Regions from separate parts of the Homo sapiens genome. Here region 2 is linked to region 1. The links come from fine-mapping of genetic effects on gene expression. Tissue or cell type: whole blood. Region 1 holds a variant in brackets; the other region holds the start of a gene. All regions are shown on one strand. Distances are from middle to middle.

Region 1 (2,753 bases):
AGAAATTACTTAAGTCTGTTCAAGCCCTCTTAGACCACTATGAAATTAATGTTAAATCCTAGAAGTATATACCACCTGATGATGCTGATTTAGACTACAAAATTGTTAATCAGTAAGATTTTTCTATTTTTTTTGAGACAGGGTCTCCCTCTGTTGCCCAGGCTGGGGTGCAGTGGCGTGATCTCAGTTCACTGTAGCCTCAACCTCCAAGGCTCAAGTGATCTTCCTGCCTCAGCCTCCCGAGTGGCTGAGACTATAGGTACGAACCACCACTCCTGGCTTTTTTTTTTTTTAATTTTTAGTAGAGATGGGATTTCCCATCTGTGTTGCCCAGGCTGGTATCGATCTCCTTGGGCTCAAGGGATCCTCCCACCTTTGCCTCCTAAAGTGCTGGCATTACAGGCGTGAGCCACTGCGCCCGGCCAATAAATAAGATTTTCAAACTGTCACCTTGTAGAGGAAGAAAAAAATAGACATTAATAAGCCAGCAAACACATTTCCTCCAAATGCCAGCAAAAAGATCTCAATCAACAATGGTTGTCAATTGCTCTAAGAACCAACGAGAAAGGGGCTAGGGCTGCAGGCTACCAACAGATCAATGCTACAGTATTAACCAAAAAGCCACGCCAGCTGTGAGGGCAAAAGCTCCAGGAGTGCAGCTTTGGAACTACCTAGCTCAGGTACATTACCTCCCAAACAGAAAAGACAATCATTTTCAGCAGCCTGACGCCTCAAAACTGTGGGAGGAGGGGTATCCCCTCCACACCCCATCCCCTCGACCTCATGACTCATTCAGCCCGTTACCCACTCTGCGGGGATCACCAATCGCCAGGTAACCCTGCTCGTCGCTGGCTGATGTAACCGGCGGTTGAGGGCGAAGAGGGGGCCGCTGGCGGGGCTGGGGGACAGCGCAGCCGCAAAAGCCATCCACCGGGAGGCCTCGCCCGGTCTGCGCCTGCGCACTAAAACCCACGGGACTTTCCGAACCCCCACCTCCAGCGATCAGAGCCCACTGCGCCTGCGTGTGCTGCCACTCTTAATTCCATTAACACACACACACTCGCACAGGAAAAACTGAGCAGGGCCTCCACTACTCATGCACTGCCACCAGACGAGCCCCTCCACGAACTAGTCCCTGCCCTAGGTGTTCCCGGGGCGCGCGAATGCCCGGGTCATGAGACCGAGCATCCACGCGCACGTACGGGAAGGGGGCGCGCGCGCCAGAGGCTCCC[G/A]GCCCGCAGTCCTCCCAGTCATCCCTCCTTCCGTCCCCCCGCCCACCTCGCTCCCCTCCTACTGGCCAGACCGGGAAGGGGGAGGCAGCAACCCGCTCCCAAGTCCCTCCCTCCCCATTGGCCAAACTGTGGGCCGCGCGCCCCCCTCCATTGGCTACGGCCGGGGACCCCTTCCCGCAGCAGACTCCCCATTGGCTGAAGCCGGGGACCGCGAGACCCTTCGTGGTAATGGAACCGGGGACCCCGATCAGCTCCTTGCCCCCCCCCAACTCCCCGTTCCGACGGCGCCGGCGGGATGCGCCCCGCCTCCCCTGAAGGCCGGGGCTGCGAGCCCTGACTAGGCCCCGAGAGCCGAGCGCGGCCCCTCAGTGCTCCGGTGGCCGCCCGGGGACCCTTTCCGTCCGACCTGTTCGGACCTGAGGGGGCCCTCCCCCAGCTTCACGGGGACTCCCCACCCAGCCGGTGCCCCTGACGGTGCCGGGTCGGGGTCCGCCCCACCGGAACCGAGCCACAGCCTCTGGGTGGCCGCGGCTCCCTCGCCCGGAGCCCACCCTTCTCACCTGGCGCTGCCGATGGCGGCTGCCCCCGGCCTCTCCTGGTGTTGCTGCGGCGGCGGCGGCTGCGGCGCCAAGATGCCTTCGGCTCCCCGGCGGAGCCCGCTCCCGGCAGCGGCCACAGGCCCCAGGCAGGGGGAGGCGGCCGCTGGAGGCCCGGGAGGAGCCGCAGAGGTGGCCAGCGGCCCCGGGAGGCCGCCGTTGGGAGGGCTGGTGCCCCCGGGGGGCCGACGGGCCACGGCCTGTTGCGTGGGGGGCGGCTGCTGGGGCTGGGAGGGCTGTTGTAGCGGCTGAGGCTTCAACATGATGGCAGCGTCCGGAAGGGGAATTAGAGAGAAGGGAGGGAGAGAGGGGGCCGGGGCTGGGGCCCCGCTGGAGAGCGCGGGAAGCGAGGGGGATCGGGCAGCCGGGGCCCGCCGTGGGCGGGCGGGGGGAGCCCCGCGGTGTCGGGGGTGGAGAGAGAAGACCGCGGCGCGAGGAAGCGCCGCGAGGCGGAAGGGGAGGGGGTCTCGCGGCTGGAGGAAAGCGAGAGGGCGCGAGCCGGGCTGGCGCGCGTGCGCGTCGCCGGGGAGCGGAGAGGGAGGAGCGCGCGGGTGGGAGCTCCCGGGGGGGGGGGGGGGGGGGGGGGGCCAGGAGCGAGCAGTGGCGCGAGGTGCCGCGCACACCGGCGCGGTTAGCTCCCGGCGGGAAAGTGGGAGAGAATCAAGTCGGTGAACCTCGCACCCCTAGCCCTGGGAGTGGGTAAGGAGCGGCGCGGGCGCTCACGCGCGCCAAGGATTTAGGGTCTTAAGGTCTCAAACCGCCTTAGAAGCCGGCGGCCGCTGTCGCTTCACAATGAGCGTGTGAGGCGCAGGGGGAGGAGCCGAAGGCGCCAGAGGAAGGGCCGGCCTCTCCGCCCACGCCGTCGCTGCGTCGCGATGCCTCCGCGGGAGTGTGAGGCGGCACGTCGTGCGTGAGGCTCTTCCGC
Region 2 (2,613 bases), 22 kb before region 1:
ACCTCAGCCTCCCAAACTGCTGGGACTATAGGCTGGCACTATAGCCACCGTGCCCAGCCTCTTCTCAGTTTTAGAAGAGTGTTTGTTATATAGCTTCCCAGTCTGTGCATAGACCCCACGGAATCATAACCTCCAGGGGAGGAATTAGGGAATCTATTTGAAACAAACACTGTCCACTGAGTCTCAGGATCTGATGAGTTCCGAAACATTAGCCAGGGTTAAGCAGCCATAATTAACACTTTGGAGTGCCCTGTGGAAGCTGCCATGAGATGATGGATGTGAAAGTTAAGGGACATTGACTACCCTTGCACCCATTCATTCAACATTCACTGCATGCTCCACCCTGTTAGGTGCTGGGGACACCGACAGATTAAAGGAGACTCAGGCTCCCCTTAAAGGCTCCCCTAGCTGGCTCCTCATCCTTGGCTCCTCATCTGCAAAATTAGATGGGTGGGGCGATGCCCAACGGAACTGCTCCTTAGGCTGCTGAGGGACTACAGGGGTGGGCAGCGAAGCTGTCTGTCTTGTGGGCTCTGGCCCTGTGAGGTCTAGCAGTACAGGGTCCCCGCAAGCTGCCTGACCTCACAGGGCCCAACACTGACTCCTACCCAGTTCATCTCCTCTCAGGGCTAGATGTCAGGCTCTCCCTATGAAGTGGATACTACTATTCCCATTTTACAGATTAGAAAACAAAGTCTCAGCGAAGAGGGAGGTCACACTTCACCCCATCCCCGAAAGGCGTCCAGGACCTGGTCCCCTACCTCCAGCTGCGGCAGAGGCGGCCAGATATCTCGCAAGACCCGCGTAGCGAGTCGGACTCCGGGGGACTCGGGGTCTCTCTCTGCCGGGCCCAGGAGGAGGTTCCTGAGCAGTCGGAGCCGCAGCTGCCTCCCGGAGCCCGAGCCCCTCCCTCCGGGTCCGGCCTAGCCCGCCTGACTCCCACTCTGATCACCTCCACAGCCCGCCGACCTGAGAACTACTACGCCCATGAGCCTTCGCGGCGCCGGTGATTTAGGGGACGCTCCTCAGTGCCCCCTGCGACCGCCAGAGAGAACTACGTTGCCCCTCAGCCCGAGAGGCGCGAGTGGTGGAAAACCTCTCCATCATACTCCGCCCTCGAGACACCAGCCCCCTCCATGACGTCTTCAGCCGCGCGCCCGACGTCGGCTGAGACGGCCATAGACACTGGCGGCTAGAGGGGCCCGGACTTGCCCTCCCAGCTCTAACTTCCGCCGGAAGTGCCTTCCAGCCGCAGGCGCCCTTCTTCTTCTGTGCGCTCGGGCTCCTGGTCCCGGCTCCCCGGTTACCGGGGCGCGAGTATGACCACAATGGCGGCCGCCACCCTGCTGCGCGCGACGCCCCACTTCAGCGGTGAGTGGTCAGGGAGGGCGATGGCGGCCCAGGAACACTTTGGGGGAGTGGTAGGTGGCTGGGTTCGGTCTGACCCCTTCCCTGCCTGACTCCAAGCTTCGGTCCCGGCAGGTCTCGCCGCCGGCCGGACCTTCCTGCTGCAGGGTCTGTTGCGGCTGCTGAAAGCCCCGGCATTGCCTCTCTTGTGCCGCGGCCTGGCCGTGGAGGCCAAGAAGACTTACGTGCGCGACAAGCCACATGTGAATGTGGGTACCATCGGCCATGTGGACCACGGGAAGACCACGCTGACTGCAGCCATCACGAAGAGTGAGTGGGGTTGGGGCGTCCAGCAGCGCCCTATCTACTGATGGGACCTGGAGCCAGGGAGGCAAGGCCAGCAGAGTGTCTGCTGGAGGAGTTTACTGTGGCCCCAAGAGCCCGAATTTGTGCGACAGGTGGATTGGGAGATGCAAGAGACAAATTTCTCCTGAACAGGAAGAACTTTGTGATCCACCAATGGCTTGGGGATCACAAAGTCGTGGGGAATGCTCTGCAAGCAGAGGCTGTACCCTAAAGAAGTCACAGGGCAGACCCTTAAGGCCCTCTAACATTTCTTTCTGACCCACAGTTCTCTCTGCTGGAAGAGTTAGAGATTGGAGGAGGTTATGTATTTAGGTGGGAGGGTTCAGGGGCGTGGTCTAAGCTCTGCCTCTAGCACTGGAACTTTAGCTGAGAGGTGTGTTCTTTTCCTCCTTTAGTTCTAGCTGAGGGAGGTGGGGCTAAGTTCAAGAAGTACGAGGAGATTGACAATGCCCCGGAGGAGCGAGCTCGGGGTATCACCATCAATGCGGCTCATGTGGAGTATAGCACTGCCGCCCGCCACTACGCCCACACAGACTGCCCGGGTCATGCAGATTATGTTAAGGTGAGGGTTGCTGGGACACTGGAGACAGGGCCAGAAGCTGCCTCTTGTCAGGATAAATGTTAGGCTTGTGGGGAGGAGATTAAGATATTCAGTGTTTGGGTATGAGATGGCAGGTTTGTGGTCTTGGCCACGCAGAATGGGTGGTGAGGAGATGGTAGAGAAAGGTGGGCCTGAGTTTCTAACTGCTACACTTGGCTATATGGATGTGAACTGAAGAGCTCGTTGAACTTGGCTGTTTCCTTTCCTTCTCCTCTCCAGAATATGATCACAGGCACTGCACCCCTCGACGGCTGCATCCTGGTGGTAGCAGCCAATGACGGCCCCATGCCCCAGACCCG

What was found. PIP is the estimated chance that this variant, and not a neighbour inherited with it, causes the effect.
Region 2: it holds the start of TUFM, and the variant in region 1 is fine-mapped to the expression of TUFM in whole blood (TOPMed, PIP above 0.99).

Annotation. Positions count from the first base shown.
Region 1 is chr16:28,822,598-28,825,350 of GRCh38, reverse strand. ATXN2L (ataxin 2 like) reads right to left here and starts at 2,352. Exons shown (of 22, transcript NM_007245.4): 1 at 1,793-2,352. The coding sequence starts at 2,091. LOC124903672 (a long non-coding RNA gene) reads left to right here and starts at 1,309. Exons shown (of 2, transcript XR_007065042.1): 1 at 1,309-1,457. RefSeq lists a silencer at 1,146-2,295 and enhancers at 2,616-2,753, 2,337-2,753. The variant G/A (reference allele first, on the strand shown) is at 1,233.
Region 2 is chr16:28,844,976-28,847,588 of GRCh38, reverse strand. TUFM (Tu translation elongation factor, mitochondrial) reads left to right here and starts at 1,241. Exons shown (of 10, transcript NM_003321.5): 1 at 1,241-1,371; 2 at 1,483-1,677; 3 at 2,109-2,275; 4 at 2,534-2,613. The coding sequence starts at 1,320. It also overlaps a transcript of SH2B1 not described here. RefSeq lists an enhancer at 890-1,379.